Linked DNA regions of Homo sapiens. The protein of the gene in region 3 purifies or fractionates together with the protein of the main gene of each other region. This does not show direct contact. Each region holds a gene or a part of one and is shown on either strand. Other genes may lie near its edges.

What was found. Proteins that work in one complex are often made in the same cells at the same time.
Region 1: the proteins of AHCY (region 3) and GMPS fractionate together in Homo sapiens (co-fractionation; 2 studies listed by BioGRID). This does not show direct contact.
Region 2: the proteins of AHCY (region 3) and RCC2 purify together in Homo sapiens (affinity purification with mass spectrometry; 2 studies listed by BioGRID, with this or other methods). This does not show direct contact.

What each region holds. Positions count from the first base shown.
Region 1 is NC_000003.12:155,908,625-155,915,649, reverse strand, and holds part of GMPS (GMP synthase [glutamine-hydrolyzing]), read right to left. Parts: intron 4,959-7,025; coding exon 4,765-4,958; intron 4,537-4,764; coding exon 4,371-4,536; intron 1,232-4,370; coding exon 1,080-1,231; intron 1-1,079. UniProt on the Homo sapiens protein: Catalyzes the conversion of xanthine monophosphate (XMP) to GMP in the presence of glutamine and ATP through an adenyl-XMP intermediate.
Region 2 is NC_000001.11:17,408,678-17,415,702, forward strand, and holds part of RCC2 (protein RCC2), read right to left. Parts: intron 5,041-7,025; coding exon 4,860-5,040; intron 4,502-4,859; coding exon 4,396-4,501; intron 3,518-4,395; coding exon 3,445-3,517; intron 1,375-3,444; coding exon 1,297-1,374; intron 518-1,296; coding exon 413-517; 3' UTR 1-412. UniProt on the Homo sapiens protein: Multifunctional protein that may affect its functions by regulating the activity of small GTPases, such as RAC1 and RALA. Required for normal progress through the cell cycle, both during interphase and during mitosis.
Region 3 is NC_000020.11:34,300,346-34,307,436, forward strand, and holds the start of AHCY (adenosylhomocysteinase), read right to left. Parts: upstream 3,011-7,091; 5' UTR 2,926-3,010; coding exon 2,898-2,925; intron 2,646-2,897; exon of another isoform or gene 1,436-2,645; coding exon of another isoform or gene 1,402-1,435; intron 1-1,401. UniProt on the Homo sapiens protein: Catalyzes the hydrolysis of S-adenosyl-L-homocysteine to form adenosine and homocysteine. Binds copper ions.

The sequences.
Region 1 (7,025 bases), on a different chromosome or scaffold from region 3:
GGCAGGCAGATCACAAGGTCAGGAGTTTGAGACCAGCCTGACTAACATGGTGAAACCCCGTCTCTACTAAAAATACAAAAACTAGCCGGGCATGGTGGCACACGCCTGTAATCCCAGCTACTCAGGAAGTTGAGGCAGGAGAATCGCTTGAACCCTGGAGGCAAAGTTTGCAGTGAGCCAAGATTGCACCACTACACTCCAGCCTGGGCGGCAGAGTGAGACTCCATCTCAAAAAAAGAAAAAAATTAGCTGGGCATGGTGGTGCATGCCTGTAATCCCAGCTACTCGGGAGGCTGAGGCAGGAGAATCGCTTGAACCCAGCAGGTGAAAGTTGCCGTGAGCCAAGATCGCTCCATTGTACTCCAGCCTGAGTGACAAGAACAAAACTCCGCCTCCAAAAAAAAAAAAAAACAAAAACAAAGGTATGTGAACATTCCATTCAAGAGCTTGAAATTAGCCATTGAGATAATCAATGAATTAAAGTCTATGATAAGCTGAATACATCTACTCTTAAAGACATCTATTCTTAAAATAATAGCCTGGCAATGTAGGCAAACATGTTTATTAAAACATAAAACAGTTGGCTGGGCATAGTGGCTCACACCTGTAATCCCAGAAGTTCGGGAGGCTGAGGCGGGCGGATCATGAGGTCAGGAGATCCGGACCAACCTGGCCAACATGGTGAAACCCCCGTCTCTACTAAAAGTACAAAAATTAGCTGGGCATGATGGTGCACCCCTGTAGTCCCAGCTACTTAGGAGGCTGAGGCAGGAGAATCACTTGAACCCAGAAGGCAGAGGTTGCAGCGAGCCGAGATCGTGCAACTGCACTCCAGCCCAGCCTGGTGACACAGCAAGACTCTGTCTCAAAAAAACAAAAAAAAAACCAAACAACAACAAAAAAACATAAAACAGTTTCTACTGGTCAATATAATGACAATATACAATAAAACTCTCAGCCACATAAGAAAAAGGATTAAAATTAGCTAATTTGGTTATTTGATATAGTGACAAGGAAAAACAAATACTAAGATTCACATCAAAAATAGTACATGTTGAGGATATTAAAAACAAAGGTACCTTAACAAAAGTATCCCCAATGATTTTTCTTTTCTCTTCAGGACTTGTGGTCATATTTAACGTTTTGCTAATTCTTTTCCGTGGGGTTCTATCTTCATCTGATATTGGTAGGGTTGTTGTTCCATTGTAGAAAGAATGAGCAGCATTTATCACTGGAGGAAAGGGGAGAAGCGTTTTAAATTGGTATAACATGTTTTTTAATCAAAAATAACAAGTCAAAATACAGAAAGAAAAGCTATTTCTTTCCCAGTCTGAAGAGCAGTCCTTTGATCTCCCCTAAATCTGCCTACAAATTTCAATAAACTATCAATATTCAAGAATTATTGGCCGGGCCCGGTGGCTCATGCCTATAATCCCAGCACTTTGGGAGGCCGAGACAGGTGGATCACGAGGTCAGGAGATCAAGACCATCCTGGCTAACATGGTGAAATCCCATCACTACTAAAAATACAAAAAATTAGCTGGGTGTGGTGACGGGTGCCTGTAGTCCCAGCTACTTGGGAAGCCGAGGCAGGAGAATGGTGTGAACCCGGGAGGCGGAGCTTGCAGTGAGCAGAGATTGTGCCACTGCACTCCAGCCTGGGTGACAGAGAGAGACTCCATCCCCAAAAAAAAAATAAGAAAAGAAAAAGAACTATCAATAAATCCTGAGTAACAGAATTCAGATACAGGCACTCATTAAATTTTGTTTCTGTGAGAATCTCCTGGCATTTAGATCTAGGGCCATGACATCACAAATTATGCTGATTAGGGCCGGCACGGTGGCTCACACCTGTAATACCAGCACTTTGGGAGGCCAAGTTGGGTGGATCACTTGAGGTCAGCAGTGTGAGACCAGCCTGGCCAAAATGGCAAAACCACATCTCTACTAAAAACACAAAAATTAGTGGGGCGTAGTGGCACATGTCTGCAATCCCAGCTACTCAGAGGCTGAGGCAAGAGAATTGCTTAAACCTGGGAGGCAGAGGTTGCAGTGAGCCGAGGTTGTGCCACTGCATTCTGCCCTGGGCAACAGAACAAGACTCTGTCTCAAAAAAAAAAAAAAAATTTATGCTGATTGTTTTCCCTCTCTTCAGTGCTTCACCAGAGCAACAAGCAGAAGCCACAGCAAGAAGCTTAGCCCCAAAGAAGTCAAAAGCACCGGCTCCTAAACGGAGTCAAAGCTGTTGGAATCACACCCTAGTGTCTTGTAAAACTAATATTTATGAACATACATTTAACAATCCTTGGCTTTTTATTTAATGACAAGAAACTAAAAACTAAGATCTCTATTTGCTAATAAAACTTAGCTACTGGAGGCCTTCACCGTAAGATGACAAGGCAGCTGGCTATTTCATTGTGGAAAAGCCAGTGAATTTGTAGGTCTTTCCTGTACCTGGTCAACTACCCAGAGAAGACATATCTACTCTCCTGCCTATTGGCATTCTGGCAGTTAAACAGAGGAAGTGGTAGGAAGAGGGAATCACCATTCAGCATAGAGAATTTTACTTAATCCTGTTCTTAATGTAGAGTCTTACCTCCACCCTCAACTATGCCTGGTATTAGTAGGCTCAAGCCCAGAACCTCTCGTTTAGCCCCTCTAGAGAATACATCCACAGTGTTCTGATGGGGAAGGAGAGCACAGTTTGCTCCTGTGCTAAGGAAAAGGATCTGCTTCTCAGATTTTTAACTAATCCCTGTTTTAGGCTAACCCAGAGACCAATGTCCCAAAAAGAACCCAATGCTTCAAATTCCTGAGCCTCCCCAGAAGTCTACAGCACAAATCAGCTTGCTTTTTATTGGCTTCCTTCCCACCCCACCCCAAGGTTGTGAATTCCTCCATTCTGCTATGTCAGTTACCAGGGACAGATCCAAGTTTTACAATTTGAAGGACTCCTTCAAGAACCAGAATAACAAATAAGATACTAAAAATCTTAAGTTATACTGGGATGGCTAACAAGTACTTAACTATACACAGAAATAATTGCAAATCACATATATACCACTAAACCCATACTAAGCACATCCCCAGCTCATCTTTGTCTTAGCCTGATTTCAAAATGCCCACAGCTATTCCAGCACCACCTAACAGAAAACAAGTCAGAGTTGAAAGAAAATAAACAACTACAAATTATCAAAATATCTTGCAAATTTCACAAAAACCTATCACCATGTGAAGATACCATTGGGGACCTTCCCAGGATGTTGGGAGAGACCCCCCTAGCTTAAACAGAGAAAATCCACCTTTACCCATCTGCTTTCCACTTTCCAACACTTTATTGAAACCATCTGTCTTCTGTCATCTCCTCTATCCCACATCCTTAAGGTATTACACTGTTTTATGCTTTTACTGTTATTTTAGAGAAGTTTCAAAAAAATAGACTCATGTTCACATCATACTTACCTACAAGTCTTCATTTTATTCAGCCTTTTGGTATCAATTCCAATTAATTCCATAATATGTACAATAACTTTTATCATTAAACTACTGACCTCATTTCATTATAACTATCAATTGCACCTTGTTTTTAAAAAGTATAAAAGGTATCTACAAAAGTAAATGTTATTAAGGACTAAGAAGTTTACTAGTGGCCCTTTAAAAAAAAAGTATAGAATCTTTACCTCTCCCACAATAAGCTTTTCTGTTTGCAAAATAATCTGTATACCCATACCTGAGGAGGGCTTGGGTAGCCTCGTACATAAATATCATTAAATAGAGTGGGAAAAGATAATTTCTTTTTTTTTTTTTTTTGAGATGGAGTTTCGCTCTTGTTGCCCAGGCTGGAGTGCAGTGGCATGATCTCTGCTTACTGCAGCCTCCACCTCCCAGGTTCAAGTGATTCTCCTGCCTCAGCCTCTCGAGTAGCTGGGATCACAGGCGCCCACCACCAAGACTGGCTAATTTTTTGTATTTTTAGTAGAGATGGGGTTTCATCATGTTGGCCAGGCTGATCTCAAAACTCCTGACCTCAGGTGATCCACCCACCTTGATCTCCCTAAGTGCTGGGATTATAGGCGTGAGCCACCGCGCCTGGCCAGGAAAAGATAATTTTAAAAGTGAATGACTAGAAGAGAACTGAACAGTAGCTAGAAAATGTTAATTTATCAATCTATGTATTAAATTAGCAGAATCAATAGTTTAAAAATTTATACTGAGACCTCTCTTACACCAGAGGTAATTGTAAAAATAAAAAACATTTTCAACCTTGAGCATACTGAGAAAACTGTAATTGTGCTCATTTAAACCATAAGACTAGATTTGATTAAACAAGTCCTAACATGTAAGTTAACTTTTCTGAGGTTCTTCAATACCTTTGACCTGAATTCCAAGCTTTTTGAGGGCCTCTTCAACAGACTGGCTTTCTCGTTTTCTCATAAAGCCATTATCAATGTGCACAGCAATGACTTGTTCTTGGTTCAAAGCACGATTTAGCAAAGCTGTACAAACTGTTGAGTCTACTCCACCACTGAGTAAAACCTACGGGGTAAAATGAAAAATCAAAATGAGCAAAACAAGCAAAAAGAAAATAAACACTATTGGCTTAAATCTTTATCTAAAAGTGCTATTTATACCAAAGATATGTATGGTAACTGGAAAAGCACTCTAAAACTGTAGAACATTTAAGGGCTGTGTTGAGGACTCTAACTCCTGGATTCCAATATTATTGATATAAATTTGTAGACTTCCAGATAATAATTTGCTTACCAAAACTTTTGACGTGCCTACTCTCTCTTTGATCTCTCGAATACACTCAAGTTCTCTGTTCTGCACGGTGAAGGTTCCACTGCATCCAGCTATATCATAAAGGAAATTCTTCAGTATTACTTTTCCATTTTCTGTAAGGCCAACTTCAGGGTGGAACTGTGCTCCATATAACTTTTTAGATTCATTTGCTATGCCTTTATAGAGAAAATAGTCACAAATTAAAATTTTTTCATGCTGAAAAGACTCAAGCAATAACCACAATTAATTTCTCACAATCTCTGCCTCTATGGTTTCATTTTTTTTTTTTTTTTTTTTTTGAGACAGAGTCTTGCTCTGTCGCTCAGGCTGGAGTGCAGTGGCATGATCTCGGCTCACTGCAACCTCTGCCTCCTGGGTTCAAGCAATTCTCATGCCTCAGGCTCCCAAGTAGCTGGCATTACAGGCGTGTGCCACCACGCCCAGCTGATTTTTTGTATTTCTAGTAGAGATAGGGTTTCACTATGTTGGCCTGGTGGCCTCAAACTCCTGGCCTCAAGTGATCCACCTGCCTCAGCCTCCCAAAGTGCTAGGATTACAGGCATGAGCCACTGCTCCCAGCCAATTTTATTTGTTTGTTTGTTTTTTGTTTTGTTTTGTTTTGAGACGGAGTCTCGCTCTGTTGCCCAGGCTGGAGTGCAGCGGTGCGATCTTGGCTCACTTGTCACCTCTGCCTTCCATGTCCAAACTATTCTTCTGCCTCAGCCTCCCGAGTAGCTGGAACAACAGGTGTGTGCCACCACGCTCGGCTTATTTCTTTTATATTTTTAGTAGAGACAGGGTTTCACCATATTGGCCAGGCTGGTCTTGATCTCCTGACCTTGTAATCCGCCCATCTCAGCCTCCCAAAGTGCTGGGATTACAGGCGTGAGCCACTGCGCCCGGCCTATTTTATTTTATTTTTTAGACAGGGTATTTACTGCTCTGTCACCCAGGCTGGAGTGCAGAGGTGTAATCATAGCTCACTATAGTCTCGATCTCCTGGGCTCAAGTGATCCTTCCACCTCAGCCTCCTGAGTAGCTGGAACAACAGGTGCATGCCACCACACTCAGCTAATTTTTAAATATTTTGAAGAGATGGGGTTTTATCTTGTTGCCTGTTGAACTCCTGGGCTCAAGTAATCCTCCTGCCTCGGCCTCCCAAAGTGCTGGGATTACAGGTGTGCGCCACTGCACCCAGCCTTCTTCCTCTATAAATGTTAAAACTGGTATGTCTCAGTAGATTTTTAGCTATAGGAATAGGAAATACATAACAAAGACAAAAACTACATTGCTATAACCTTTCTTTATAAAGGTCTTTCTTGACACAGCAATTAATGAGGTATAGGACGTACATTAAGTCCCACATAGAGATTGTTTCACAGTATTCTCACCTCTCCACCCAAGTTACTTCAGTTGCCTTGTCTATCTAGTGCATTGATAATTCAATTTTGGTTCTCAGTTGCACATGGCTTTCAAATGCATTGTACAGCTACCAAGTTCTTATATTAAAAGAATCTCATATATTAGACTTGTCAGAATATACTGTTTCTTTCTTGACTACTATTAACCACAAAAATATATTCAACTACTTGACAAATGTGTTTCTGGCAAATATTACCTATGGGGCAATAGATGTTAGGCTAGGTATTTTACATGTGCATGTGTTACTCCTATTTTATGGCTCTGAGATATCAAGAAACTTGTATGAACTCTCAGGTAATTAAGTAACTAAATCAGGCCTGACAGGCTCCCAAACTCATACTCATTCTACTATACCACAGTACTTCACACTTTATTTGGCTCTCAGCATACCACTCTCTTGGTTCACTTATTTTACTGTCTATTCCTTCTGAATCTCTTTGCTGGTTCCTCTTCATCTTGCCCACCTCTACACATGGAAGTTACTCAGTCCTCAGCCCTTAAATCTCTTTTCTAAATATTCTAAGAGATCTCATACTCTCATCACCTTAAAATTCTGTCTGTATGCTGGTAAACCCCCAAATTTATACCTCCAGCCCAGTTTTCTCCTCTAAAGTCCAGGCTCATATATACAACTGCCTACTCAGCACCTTTGTTTTGATGTTTAATAAACCATCTTGAATTTAATATGCAAACTCAAACTCCTGAGGTCTTTCCAATCAGGTAAATAGAAACATCTTCCTTTTGGTTCCTCAGGCAAAAAAACTTGGGAGCTAAAACTTGATTCTACTTTTTCTTCCCCACTCCATATTCAATCTAACAGC
Region 2 (7,025 bases), on a different chromosome or scaffold from region 3:
AGTAAATGGCGATTCCTCTTCCATGTGGCATCTGCTTGGATCACGATGCTAATTGTAACTGGAAAGGGGTGTTTTGGGGAGTGTATTCAGGAGAGGAAGAAAGAAAAAACTTAAAAAAAAAAAAAACCTAGATTGCTCAAAGTTTCTGCCTCTTTTGTAGGAATGGTAAATCAACTATGAGCAAGTATTTTAATTCAACATTAAGGGAAAAAAAAGGACTTTGGAAAGCATACAGAAAAAAAGGTAGTTAACGTTGGATCATGTGTAAAACGGAACCTCAGGGAGTCTAAACAAAAATGCACCTTCGGTCAACTTTTGCTTTTTTAAATTCCTCGTTTGACTTCCCGTCCCAGTGCACATGGAAATGACAGCTGCCGCGAGAGGTGTGGAGTCGGAGGAGTCTCCGGGAGCATCAGAGGGTTCGGGGGTTGTATTCTGGCAGTTTCTTGATCTTCTCTTTCTCAGTCTCACTTTCATCTCTTGCTATCACCAAGGAGTGTGAGTAGCCCATGGCGACCTGGGGGGACAAATCAGCGTTGGGTGTGCCTGAGGCGCCTGGACTAATCAATGCGTTGAAGAGACTCTGGAAACTGGGCTGCTAAAGCGGGTCAGCATGGAGAAAAACAGAGTGCCCTTGAAAACTGCAAAAAGCCCCTCTGCCCAAGACAGCTAGTTTCCATGTGACTGCCACCAACGCTCTGCCAATCAGAGCCTTCCAGGCTGCCCTGGGAGACCCAGCTGGAAGGAAGCCCACTGGGCCACCTCTTATCAGCAGGGACAGGTGGGGACATGGCTCCAGCTCCACTTCCATCCCCCCCCTCTCTGGCTCACAATCCTGCCTGGGTGAGGTGCACCACCCCTCTCTGTGTCTTGGCAGACAGGGCCAGCAGGCTGGCTGACTGAGCCGCAGGGGCCTCACCCCGCCATCTGACTCCTGCAGCCACGCAGCCTCTACTCTGTGGACCTGCGGACCTGCCTCCAGCCCAGTGGATCTGAGTCCTGGGTGTGATGGAGACGCGAGCGATGTGCTCGCCCGAGAGTGGATCTGCTGCGGCCAGTTGGTGCCATCTGTCATCAAGGGTGAGGACAGCCACCCAGCCTGGCCAGCAACCCTGTGCACTCTCTCCTGCAGAATGATTGTTACCTCTCAAACAAATCTTAGCGTGAGACACCAGGAAAGCCAGCTGAGATGGTAAACAAGACAACCCAAACAGACTGCGATGATCAAAATCATGAGGAGTGACATACCACTGGGTACGGACACGTCCCCGAGCTGGCACAGCTGCCCCCACTCACCTGCTCTGAGAAAATGCCATCCAGAGTCTTTACCTCCTGGGCTGCAGTGGAAGACTTGGGCTTGTGGTCCCCGTAGCCCTGGCGAAGCAAACAAGATGTTCGCAATCGAGGATCCATGTGGCTCAGTCCACAAGTGGGGAATCACGGCAACATTTCCTGGCCCCCACTAACCAGAAGCCAGTGATGATGCCCTCTGGCCCATGACAAGCCCGGCCACCCTTGCACACAAGGGCCAGGTGGAATCATCCAAGTTTATCCACAAAAGGTGCCACCAGCAGGCGACTAGCGCTTAACCTAAGGAAGACCAAGGTGCCCAACTCTAGCCTGCAGGACTTCTGTGTGCACAAGTCCCTTCTGGGGAGTATGGCACTGGTGACAAGAGATGACACCACGAGTGCAGGAAGAATGGCAACTGCGGCCCTTCAGGACCAAAGCGACCAAGAACACGGGCTGACCAAATGCCCTTGATGCCTCCACCATCCAGAGTGGAATAATCACCATCCAAAACAAAACAAAATAAAAGGGCTTAAGCGTGACAGGGAGACTATTAGCAATGGCACCAGAGAACCAGTTTCCCTCCCAGAGGTAGAAGGAACTGGATGAATTGGCGCAGCTAAGGGGGAGTCTTGTGCAAAGGTGTGGAGCTGGGCAATTGAAAGACTGAAGGCCCTGGCTCAGGTGAAACAGAGGGTCCCACAGGGCGGGAGAGGAGGACCCTCCCTCCCCAGCCCAGGCCTGCCCACATGTCCCTGGTTTCATCTCCTGCCAGGCCCCACCTCGGGCCTTCCCACACAGTAGATGTTCCCTCCAAGGTGCCAGGCCAACTTCTCACCCTTGAGAAGCTCCCCAAAAAGTCTCCCTTGCTCCCCTCTAGTTTCAAAATTTATATTTAGAAGGTCAAAGTCTATTTCTGATAGGCCCCAGAAAACATCCTTCCTCCTCTAAGAACTATCTGTAGAAACTGGGCCAGGCTCTGTCTCTTTCCTGTCAATGTTTCAAATCGGGCCACCAGAGCATCTGAGCCAGACTCCAAGGGTGTGCAGAGCCCCGAGAAAAAGGTGCATTCACCATCCATCCCAGCCACAGCTCAAGGGACCAAGGAACGCCCTTCCTTCCCCTCCTCTCCATCAACCACAAGAGTACCTTGCAACCACAAGAGTGCAGGAGAGGGAGACAGACTGTGCTTCTAACAAGAAATAAGGGACTAAAACTAAGACCACCAAGAGTTAAGCGGAGAATCAAACCATGACTAGTGTAGGCAGATCAGGATGCACTCCACAGCCAAGCTAGTCTTCCTAACAAAAACTCAAAGACCCGCCTTGGCCAGGTGCAGTGGCTCACGCCTGTAATCCCAGCACTTTGGGAGGTTGAGGCGGGTGGATCACCTAAGGTCAGGAGTTCAAGACAGCCTGGCCAACATGGTGAAACCCCATCTCTACCAAAAATACAAAAATTAGCTGGGCGTGGTGGCAAACGCCTAGAGTCCCAGCTACTCAGGAGGCTGAAGCAGGAGAACTGAGAATCATTTGAACCTGGGAGACAGAGGGTGCAGTGAGCCAAGATCGCGCCACTGCACTCCAGCCTGGGTGACAGAGAAACTCCATCTCAAAAAAAAAAAAAAAAAAGACTCACCTAGCACCAGGATCTAAGAATGAAAGACATTTGTTTGCGGAAGGCCACGTGTGTGAAATTGAGGGTCATGAGTTCTAACCTCATCACTCAAGTAACTGGTATTAACAACAGAAACACAGGTTTAAACTCAATTTGGAAAAATGAAGAATGTCCTCAAATCACCCACAACTGTGAGTTTCCCACTGACTTAGGCCTCCAGGGGAGAGGGAACAAACAGGCCCTTTTCCTACCATAACCCAACTGTGGTTTACAAAATGTGAGGGGAAACCGGATCTGAAAAGTCCCAATTTTCAGAGTTTACAAATGTGCAGAGATGACTCAGAATTATCTGACTAGCACAGAATTGTCCTTGAAAACTCATGGGACTCAATCGTGTTGCAAACCTTAATACAATAAGGGGGGAATCCCAAATGTTTTTCTTCTGTGTGTTTTGGGAGACAGGTGGAGAGAACCCAAAGGCCATGAGCCACCCTGACTGGCTTCCACTTCCCCTGACCCGCACAGGTGACAGCTTACCAGTTCCCCAAAGGTCGGTGACGGACCCCAGCTGATGGTGCTCTCATCGGCGGCCACAATGATGCTGCTCTTCCTGCAAACAGGCAGGCTGTCACTGCAGGGCCAGCAGCCCCAGACCTGCACCCACGCAGCTATGGCTCAAGGGCATGAGTGTGAGCTGCCACTTTTCCCTTGGCGTACTCATTCCAAGTAGCAAACACAATAACAGGGCCAACAGGTTTCTCCTCAATCCTAAGATTGTTCCGTGCAGGCCACTCAACGCTTCAACAAAACAACAAAGCCCTTAGACAGGCCTAGGGGCCAAAGGCAGGGGACCTTGCTGTGCATCCTGCACAGCTCTCTCTCAGTGGGAGGTCGCTTTGGGAAGAGGAGACCAGATCAGGATAAAGTGAAAGCCTGTTCCAGAGGGAGCAGCCTTCATGCATAATGATTTGGGCAGGGCTAGAGCCTTCAACAGATTAAAGCCACGCCGACAGAGGCCCCTCATACTGTTCCACCCACACCTGCCAGCTGATAAATCCAACTCCTCAGCAAGAAGTGCTAGCTAACTCAACAGGTGTCCTGAAATGAACTACAAACCACTGCTGCCAAGACAATGTCGTCTTCCCAGTGTCACAGCAACTCAAGTCCTGCTACGTTTCCAACTACGTATAATTTTCAACCTGCAGCGTAGGAATACATCAAGCTCTGCTTGTTTATTTCTTTGAACAGAAACCTTCAAAATGACTTTCTTCCCACAAGACAGGGAACAGCCATCTGTTCTAGCAGCAAATGGGCCCTCTCCCCTCCTGTACCCCCGGACTCTGGGATTCAGTGTGTCAGATGGCCTGCTGAGGACAGCCCAACAGGCAGCAGAAACAGAGCCCCATCAGGGAGGGGCACCCCATGGGTGTGTCTGACACCCCCATGAAAGGAAGAGACCTCATACCCACAGGAGATGCTGCCACCTACCCACAAGCCAGGCTCCGGATTCTCCAGCCGCAGAGGTCCTGCACTGCTTTTGGGTACATGGTAGATTCACGGGAGGTGTTGGTGGCCCCCCAGAAAAACAGACCACCTAAGGGAAGACAAAACATGTTCCCAGCGTGACCAGACATCGAGAGCTGAGTCTCATCTTCAGTATTATCAGGGTGAAAAGAGGACGGGATGGCAAACAAGTGTTCTGTCTAAAAGATAACTGGAGCCAGGCGTGGTGGCGTGCCTGTGCAGTCCTAGCTACTCAGGACGCTGTGGTGGTAGGACTGCTTGAGCCCAGGAGTTCGACACCGGCCTGGACAACACAACGAGTTCCTGTCTCAAAAAAATAAAGAACACTGGGAGGTAAAGAGAATTGGGGTTCGTGGTCTAGGGACAGGACAATGGCTACACGGTTCCGCACCAGAGCACTGATAAGCCAGGGGGCAGAAATCACTAACCCACTTCACTGACAGCAAAGGAGCAGGTGTAACCAGCATAGATCTGGGAAGCCCCACGCCCAGGGAAGTCAAACAGCTTCACCAGGCGGGGGACCATCTCATCCTTCTGCTCTGCGTGGCCCAGCCGGCCATAGCCACCAAAGCCCCAGGAGAAGACTCGCTTCTGGGAGTCCAGGACCAGCTGCAAGGAAAGAAAACACAGGGTTGGAACAAACAGACTTCCAACAGGCAACAAGAGGGGTCATCGTTTCTGTGCAGACAACCTGGTGCAAATGCTAAGGGCAAAGGAACAGCAACATTCAAGATCCCCTACCAGCCGGGCACGGTGGTTCACATCTAATCCCAACACTTTGGGAGGCCAAGGTGGGTGGATCACTTGAGGTCAGGAGTTTGAGACCAGCCTGGCCAACATGGTGAAACCCTGTCTCCAAAAACCAAAGAAATATCCTTTGCCTGCCTCCAGCAGAAAGATCCTCTACCTCCCGCCTCCAGCAGTGGGGGAGGAGGCAACAGGAGCAAGTGTAGCAAAATGGCATGCATTCAATAAGCCCAGTTTGCTATTTTCTCTGCCAGGGACTCCATTTTCCAATCCTTTTTTGTTCTGTTTATTTATTTAAGTTACAAGTCTTAACCCTTTCCTTAATCAGAAGCAACAGGGCTATGTCTCCTGAGAGTTGGGCAATCATTTGATTCCCACTACAACAGAGATTCGGCCAGATGCAGTGGCTCATGCCTGTAATCCTAGCACGTTGGGAGGCTGAGGCAGGTGGATTGCCTGAACTCAGGAATTCAAGACCAGCCTGGGCAACATGGTGAAACCCATCTCTACTAAAATACAAAAAAATTAGCTGGGCACAGTGGTGTGCACCTGTAATCCCAGCTACTCAGGAGGCTGAGACAGGAGAATCTCTTGAACCTGGGAGGCGGAGGCTGCAGTGAGCCGAGATAGCGTCACTGCACTCCAGCCTGGGTGACGGAATGAGACTCCATCTCAAAAAAAAAAAACAAAACGAAACAAAAAAAAAAACACAACAAAAAAAAAACAGATTCAATTGCAGAAAGAACAGAAAAGGCCTACCTGTTCCTGGATTTTTCGTTTCTTTTCCCCCCCTCGAGAGGGTCTCGTGCTCTGTTACCTAGGCTGGAATGCAATGGCACGATCACGGCTCACCACAACCTCCACCTCCTGGGCTCAAGCGATTCTCCTACCTCAGCCTCCCAAGTCGCTAGGACTTGGGTGTGCACCACCATGCCCAGCTGATTTTTGTGGTTTTTTTGTAGAGATGGGGGTCTCACCATGTTGCTCAGGCTGGTCTCAAATGATCTGCCCACCTTGGCCTCCCAAAGTCCTCTGATTACAAACATGAACCACTGCGCCCGGCCTGGATTTTTCTTTAGACTTCCCTCACCCACAGGTACAGAGGTAACCTGTACCTGGTCACTGATGAAATGAACTCAGAGACACTTCAAGTGTTTAAGATTTATCTTCTTCAGTCTCGTTTTCCCATCTTCTGACATGCCAATTCAGTTCTTTGATGTTTCATGTCTAAACCATGGGAATCTACAACTTACTAAAAAACTTGGCCTATAAGGCCCTAAACAAGAGCCAACTTTATTTCCCCTGACTACATCAGACAAAACAAATCAGTTTTTGGACTTGCACAAACTGAAATCTCCTACCCTAGTCCTAGCCCAATTCCCTGGGCATTCTTCATCGGCAAGAAGATTCCAAGGGAAGGAGGTGGTGAGCTGAGACCACTCAGTGGGGAGGACCAACTTGATCTCTGGAATCCTAGCCCAGGCTTTTTCAACAAAGCATAGAACAAAGAGACTCCTAGGCATTCTCAGACAGAAGAACCACAGGAAGGCCATTAAAATTAAAAGATACACTAACAGCCGGGCGCGGTGGCTCACACCTATAATCCCAGCACTTTGGGAGGCCGAGGCAGGTGGATCACGAGGTCAGGAGTTTGAGACCAGCCTGGCCAACATGGTGAAACCCCATCTCTACTAAAAATACAAAATTAGCCAGGAATGGTGGCAGGTGCCTCTAATCCCAGCTACTCAGGAGGCTGAGGCAGGAGAATAGCTTGAAACAGGAAGACAGAGGTTGCAGTGAGTTGAGATCCCACCACTGCATTCCAGCCTGGGTGAAAAAGTGAAACT
Region 3 (7,091 bases):
TAAACAAAACTAAACAAGCAAACCCTCCAATGGCTTCCCTCAATCTTCGGGCCCTATCTGCATGACTGCCTGCCCCTCCTCCATCTCTCCACTTTCCCCACTCACTAGCTGTTCAACACACAGGCTTCCTGACTGACTTCAGGCAAGCTCCACTCATTTCCACCTCAGGGCTTTAACCCAAGCAGTTCTCGGCCTGGAAGGCTCCTCTCAAGCACCTAATACAGTACCTGGCACACAGTAGGTGCTGAAAAAAACCTGGAAACAGGAAAGAACCTAGTATATCCCTGCTAGAGGAACCAAGAGTGCACCAGGGTGACTCAAATAGAGGCATAAGATGAGTTGGGACTTCAGTCCCAGTGAAGTGGGGAACCTACAGTTTTCAGGGGCCAGCATTCAGAGACCAGATTTGTCTTTTGAAAAGACCCCATTGGCTGCTGTGTGGATCTGCGGAGCAAGAGATCCAGGGAGACCTGCAAGGAGAGAGACCAGACTGGGGTGGTGACCGTGGAGACAGACAAGTGGCAGATCTGCTCACATAAAATGGAGACAATACTACTTTATCTGTATGCATGTCTGTGCCACCCCTGTCTCTGGGTCACCTTTGTGTCTCCAGCATGACCTGGCTCAGAGAAGGGGTCAGCAACTGTTTACCGACCATATCTGTCCTCAGAACTGAATGAAAGATCCATGAGAGGGGCTGGCACGTGACAAGGGTGGCAAAGAAAAACAACACAAATCTGAACCTAGTCTGAGTCCCAGCATTTACTAATGACCCAGAGAGGACCCAGAGAGGAGTTTGCTGCAGGTTCCATAGCCAATTAACCGCAGAACCAGAACTGGCAGCCAGGCAGGGCTAGAGCAGAGGCCCCTCTCAAGGCCCCTCCTGGGAGGGGCCCGGCTGTATGGGACAATGGGTTATGCCCTGTGCTGCTAAGCTCCACCCCTCCACCACCACATGTCCCTCCAGCTAAAAATAACTCCTTCAGTGCCCTCGAGGACACTGTGCCAGCCCCACAGTTTTCCCTGGGACCCTCAACTCCAAAGGCACAGGAGAGGCTAGATGCTGCAATCTCTGGAGCTAAGGACTTGCAAAAGTCACAGGAACACCTGTCCCCAGGACAAGCCAAGAGGAACAGCAAGAGCCCCTGTAAACATCAGTTTCTTCATCTGTAAAGTGTGGATAATCATCCCTAGCTTGCTATGCGCCTTAAGTAAAGATAATGCCATATGATCAAGATCTGGCATACAGCAGGGCCTCCTTCCTCCAGCCCCACCCAGCTAAGCTCCCCATCCCCAAATCCAGCTTTATCTCCACCCACACAACCCAATGGCCCCAATCCTGACCCACTAATCTCTCCACAGTATGACAAGCCCCCATTCCAGCTCTACTATTGATGTGACCTTCACATAACCTTTCTGGGTTCAGTTTCAGCATCCACACAATGGAGACAGTCTACTCTGGTAGCAACTTGATGAACTACTTCAACAGAATCTTTGCAAGTCACCTCCCAAGGGCCTCAGTTTCATGCTCTATATAACGGGATTACGTCCACCTCTATGAAGATTATTGTGTAAACACACGTAAATCACCAGATATACAGCAAGTGTTTCCATAAATGTGGATGGCATTCTCCAGACTTAATAGTGTCTTTTTTTGTTTGTTTTTTTTTTTTGAGACAGGGTCTTGCTCTGTTGCCCAGGTTGGAGCGTGGTGGTGCAATCTCGGCTCACTGCAACCTCCGTCTCCCCGGCTCAAACAGTCCTCCTGCCTCAGCCTCCCGAGTAGCTGGGAATGAAGGCGCCCGCCACCACGCCCAGCTAGTTTTTGTATTTTTGGTAGAGATAGCGTTTCACCACGTTGGCCAGGCTGGTCTCGAACTCTTGACCTCAAGTGATTCGCCCACCTCGGCCTCTCAAAGTGCTGGGACTACAGGGGTGAGCCACCACACCCGGTCCAATAGTGTCAAAGTTACTTGAAAAGCTACCAGCCAAACTGAACTGGTTTTTGCTGAAAATTCACTAGGATTGTTCCGCGTGTATTCGCTTGCACACAGTGGTGAAAGGGTGCGCTCAGAGATCTAGATGGCCTGCGTTCCAATCTTGCTCCATCACCACCAGCTGTAAGACTGAGGGCAAGTTACCTCTGCCTCAGGATTCTCATCATAAAATGAGAACAGTTTCCCTATAGAGCCATGAGACTAGAATAAAGCTAGAAGGCAGTGCCGATCCCACAGGAAACACTAAGTAAACGTTAACTATCCCTGTATTACACTTCAATCGGTGGGACAGCAGGATTTTTCAAACCACTCCAAATTTTCTTCGAGATTTCTGCAAGGCTGCCCCTGCTGGAGGGGTGGGGGACCCCACAGGTTGGGTAACTGGCCCAAAGTCCCAGGGGAGAGGAGGATCGGAGCCGGCCTGGGGCTCGCTTTCCAGGCCTCTCCTCATACACCCTCCGGGGTGCCCTCGCCGTCCCTGTAGGAGGCCCAGAGAGGGGTGGACGCTCGTCGGGGCCGCCCAGCTGGACAGGGTCCGGTCCAGGCCTAGGAGGCCGGGCGCAGGCCCCCCGAGCAGGGTCCGGCAGGTGCCAGCCGTCCCAGGCCGTGGCCAGGTGTGCTCTCCCGCGGAGCACGCCGCCAGTTTGCGGCTCGCAGACCGCGCGGCGGCCCCGGCGTCGCGGGGCATGCTGGGACTTGTAGTCCACGGCCACCCGGAACGGCCCGCTCATGGCCGCGCGAGAACTCCAACTTCCAGCTGGCTTCGCGCGGCCAGAAACGCGCCGAGGCTGCGATTCCAGGGGGTCCAGAGAGCCCCGAGTCGGCCCTGCAGCCCCCGCCACGAACAAGCCCCGGGCGGGTGCCGGGCGGCCGCAACCGGCTGCAGGTCCTGGGACTCACCGACTTTGTAGGGCAGTTTGTCAGACATGCTGGCGGCACTCGTGATGGAAACGGGCGAAGGGGGCTGGGCCTCAGTCTGGGAACAGGAACTGGGCGGGCAGCGCCGAGCAGGGATATGCGCGTGGCGCCGACGCCTTTAAATATCTTCCTCGCACTTGCATATTCATGACCCGCTGGGGCGGGGCCCAACGCGCAGGGCGGAGCCGGAGGGGATTTCGATCCCTGAAAAGAAGCCTCAGAATTTCACAAGGCGTGGCCCCAGGAGTCTCACTCACCGGTCCGGAAGGGAGCGCCGGGAGAGGCCTGAGAGCCAGCCGGGCCGTCCTCTCGCTGGTTCAGCCAGTTGATTCAGTGTCAAAACCCAGCGGAACTGAAATTCCGCCAGTTCACTTCCCTGTGCCTCAATTTCCTCATCTGTAAAATGGGCCAAATGACATCTGCCACACAGATTATTATAAGTAAAGTTGCAGGCCAGGCGCGGTGGCTCACACCTGTAATCCCAGCACTTTGGGAGGCCAAGGCGGGAGGATCGCTTGAGCCCAGGAGTTCAAGACCATCCTGGGCAACACAGTGAGACCTGAACTCTACAAAAAAAAATTAAAAATTAGCCGGGCGTGGTGGCGCGCGCTTGTGGTCCCAGCTACTTGGGACGCGGAGGCGGGAGGGAGGATCTTTTGAGCCTGGAGATCGAGGCTGCAGTGAGCTATCATCCCACCACAGCACTTGAGCCTGGGCGAAAGGGCAAGACCCTATCTCAAAAAAACCAAAACAAAGTTAAGTTGCCATTTGTCAGGTACCTACTGACATCCCAAACATTCGCCTTACTCCAAGTAACCAACACCCTGAATTTAAGTAAGTTTGCATACATTTCTTATACTTTTACTGCATCCGTATATCATTAAATAGTTCTGTGTTTAGCACCTTTATATATCAACCGTATTTACCCTTCTGCAACTTGCTTTTTTCTGTGAGCATTATATTTATGAGACTCATGCATATAGCTTGAGTATATTCATTTTTGCTGCTGTATAATTCAGTCATCCCAGGCATGGGAAGGGGAAATTGGTTTCAGGACCTCTGTGGACTCCAAAACCCTTCTATGTTCAAGTCCCTCATATAAAATGAGGCAGTATTGGCATATAACCTATGCACATTCCTCCGTACACTTTAATCATCTCTAGATTACTTATAACTAATATAATGTAAATGCTATGCAAATGGTTGTTTTGTAATTTGTATTATTTTTATAGTTATGTTTTTTTAATTGCTTTTTTTCCCCTGAATTTTTTTTTTTTTTTATGGAGTCTCACTCTGTCGCCCACACTGGAGTGCAGTGGCACCATCTAGGCTCGCTGCAACCTCCACCTCCCGGGTTCAAGCAATTCTCCTGCCTCAGCCTCCCGAGTGGCTTGGATTACAGGCACGCACCACCACACCTGGCTAATTTTGTTTTTTCTTTTTTTGAGATAGAGTTTGGCGCTTGTTGCCCAGGCTGGAGTGCAATGGCATGATCTTGGCTCACACCAACCTCTGCCTCCCGGATTCAAGCGATTCTCTTGCCTCAGCCTCCCGAGTAGCTGGGATTACAGGCATGAGCCACCACGCCTGGCTAATTTTGTATTTTTAGTAGAGACGGGGTTTCTCCATATTGGTCAGGCTAATCTCGAACTCCCGACCTCAGGTGATCCGCCAGCCTCTGCCTCCCAAAGTGCTGGGATTACTGGCGTGAGCCACCGTGCCCGGCCTCTACTCATTTTTTAACCTAAAAATGAGAAAAGAATTAAACTCTTCTGGCCGGGCGCGTGGCTCACGCCTGTAATCCCAGCACATTGGGAGGCCGAGGCGGGCGGATCACGGGGTCAGGAAATCGAGACCATCCTGGCTAACAGGGTAAAACCCCATCTCTACTAAAAATACAAAAAAAAAAAAAAATTAGCTGGGCGTGGTGTCGGGAGCCTGTAGTCCCAGCTACTCGCAAGGCTGAGGCAGGAGAATGGCGTGAACCCGGGAGGCCGAGCTTGCAGTGAGCCGAGATCGCACCACTGCACTCCGGCCTGGGCGACGGAGGGAGACTCTTGTCTCAAAAAATAAAAAATAAAAATAAGAATTAAGGTCTTCTATGACATAGTAAATGTATTGGTCTCACTTGATCTGTACATCTGACCTCTGTCTGAGAGTCATGAGGGCCGATGTCAAGCAGAGACTTCCTGAGGGAACGAGGGTCCACGCCTGGGAGGTGGGCAGCAGGGTCCTCACGCATCCCTTTCAGCATTCTGCAGTGCATTGCAGTGTGTAGTGAGTCGTGTCAGTCTAACTAAACGTAGGATCATGTTACTAGGTTGTCCTACGAGAACAGAAAAATGGCTTCAAAATATTCCTGCAAAGAAATGGCAAGTTCCAGATACTGTGAAAATTACCAGCACAGCAAACAAGTAGAAAAGGACACAGCTGACAGGTCTCTTTCTGGTATGAATGCTGGTCTTTGTCAGCCATGTTGTAAGGAATGTAATAAAATTTGAGAAAACAATGAAAAAGACACTTTGAAATATGAATTTACGGACCAGGCGCAGTGACTCACACCTGTAATCCCAGCACTTTGGAAGCCGGGGCGAGTGGATCACTTGGGGTCAGGAGTTCCAGACCAGCCTGGCCAACATAGTGAAACCCTGTATCTACTAAAAATACAAAAATTAGCCGGGCGTGATGGTGCACGTCTGTAAACTCAGCTACTCAGGAGGCTGAGGGACAAGAATTGTTTGAACCCAGGAGGCGGATGTTGCATTGAGCCAAGATTGCGCCACCGCACTCCAGCCTGGGTGACAGAACAAGACTGCCTCAAAAAAAAAAAAAAAAAAAGAAAAAAAAAGAAATGTGAATTTACATGCCCTCTCATTAATTAATGATGACTCTCATCCTCACTGTATATCGTGCTTTGAGATATCAGCTAATGAGATATTTGCTAATATTTGTACCGTTAAGTTCATATGAACAAAACTTTGGAGACTGCTGGTCTCAGGAGAAGGTCTAAGCACCTTAGTCTGGCCTTATGCAACCTCTCTAGCAGCAGAATGTTCTAGCCTATGGATATATTGCAATTGATATAGCCAATTTCCTATTATTTCAGCTTCTTTTTTTTTTTTTTTGAGAAAGAGTGTCTCTCTGTTGCCCAGGCTGGAGTGCAATGGTGTGATCTCGGCTCACTGCAACCTCTGTCTCCCAGGTTCAAAGTGATTCTCGTACCTTAGCCTCCCAAGTACCTGGGATTACAGGCACACGCTCCCACACCCGGATAATTTTTGTATTTTTAATAGAGACGGTGTTTCACCATGTTGGCCAGACTGGTCTTGAACTTCTGACATCAAGTGATCCTCCCGCCTTGGCCTTCCAAAGTGCTGGGATTACAGGTGTAAGCCACCACGCCCAGCCAGGTTCTTTTAATGGATGAACAGTTAAACAAATTGGTACAGCCATACCATGAAATAATACTCAGCAAAAGGAATAAACTTTGATAAATGCAGCAACCTGGATGAATCCTTAGAGAATTATGCTGAGTGACAAAAACCAATTCCAATATATTACATAGTATATTATTTCATTTCTATAATATTCTTGAAATGACCAAATTATAGAAATGAACCACAGATTAGTGGTTGCCAGGTATTAGGTAGGGGACGGGAGCAAGAGAGAGGTAAATGTGGCTGTAAAAGGGCAACATGAGGAAACTTTGTGGTGATGGAATGTTCTGGATCTTGCTTTATCATTGTCAGTATCCTAGTTGAGATGTTTTATTATGGTTTTGCAAGATGTCACCATTGGGAGAAAGCGAGCAAAGGGCATTGGGATTTCTCTGTGTTTTCTTTGTTTCTTTTTTCTTTTTCTTTTTTTTTTTTTTTGAGACAGGGTCTGCTATCTAGGCTCACAGCAACCTCCACCTCTCCCAGGCTCAAGCCATTCTCCTGCCTCAGCCTCCTGAGTAGCTGGGATTACAGGTGCATGTCGCTACCACCCGGCTAATATTTATATTTTTAGTAGAGATGGGCTTTCGCCATGTTGGCCAGGCTGGTCTTGAACCTCTGACCTCAAATGATCCACCTGCTTCAGCCTCCCAACATGCTGAGGTTTTTTTGTTTTTTGTTTTTTGTTTTTTTTGTCGGAGTTTCGCTCTTGTTGCCCAGGCTGGAATGCAATGGCAAA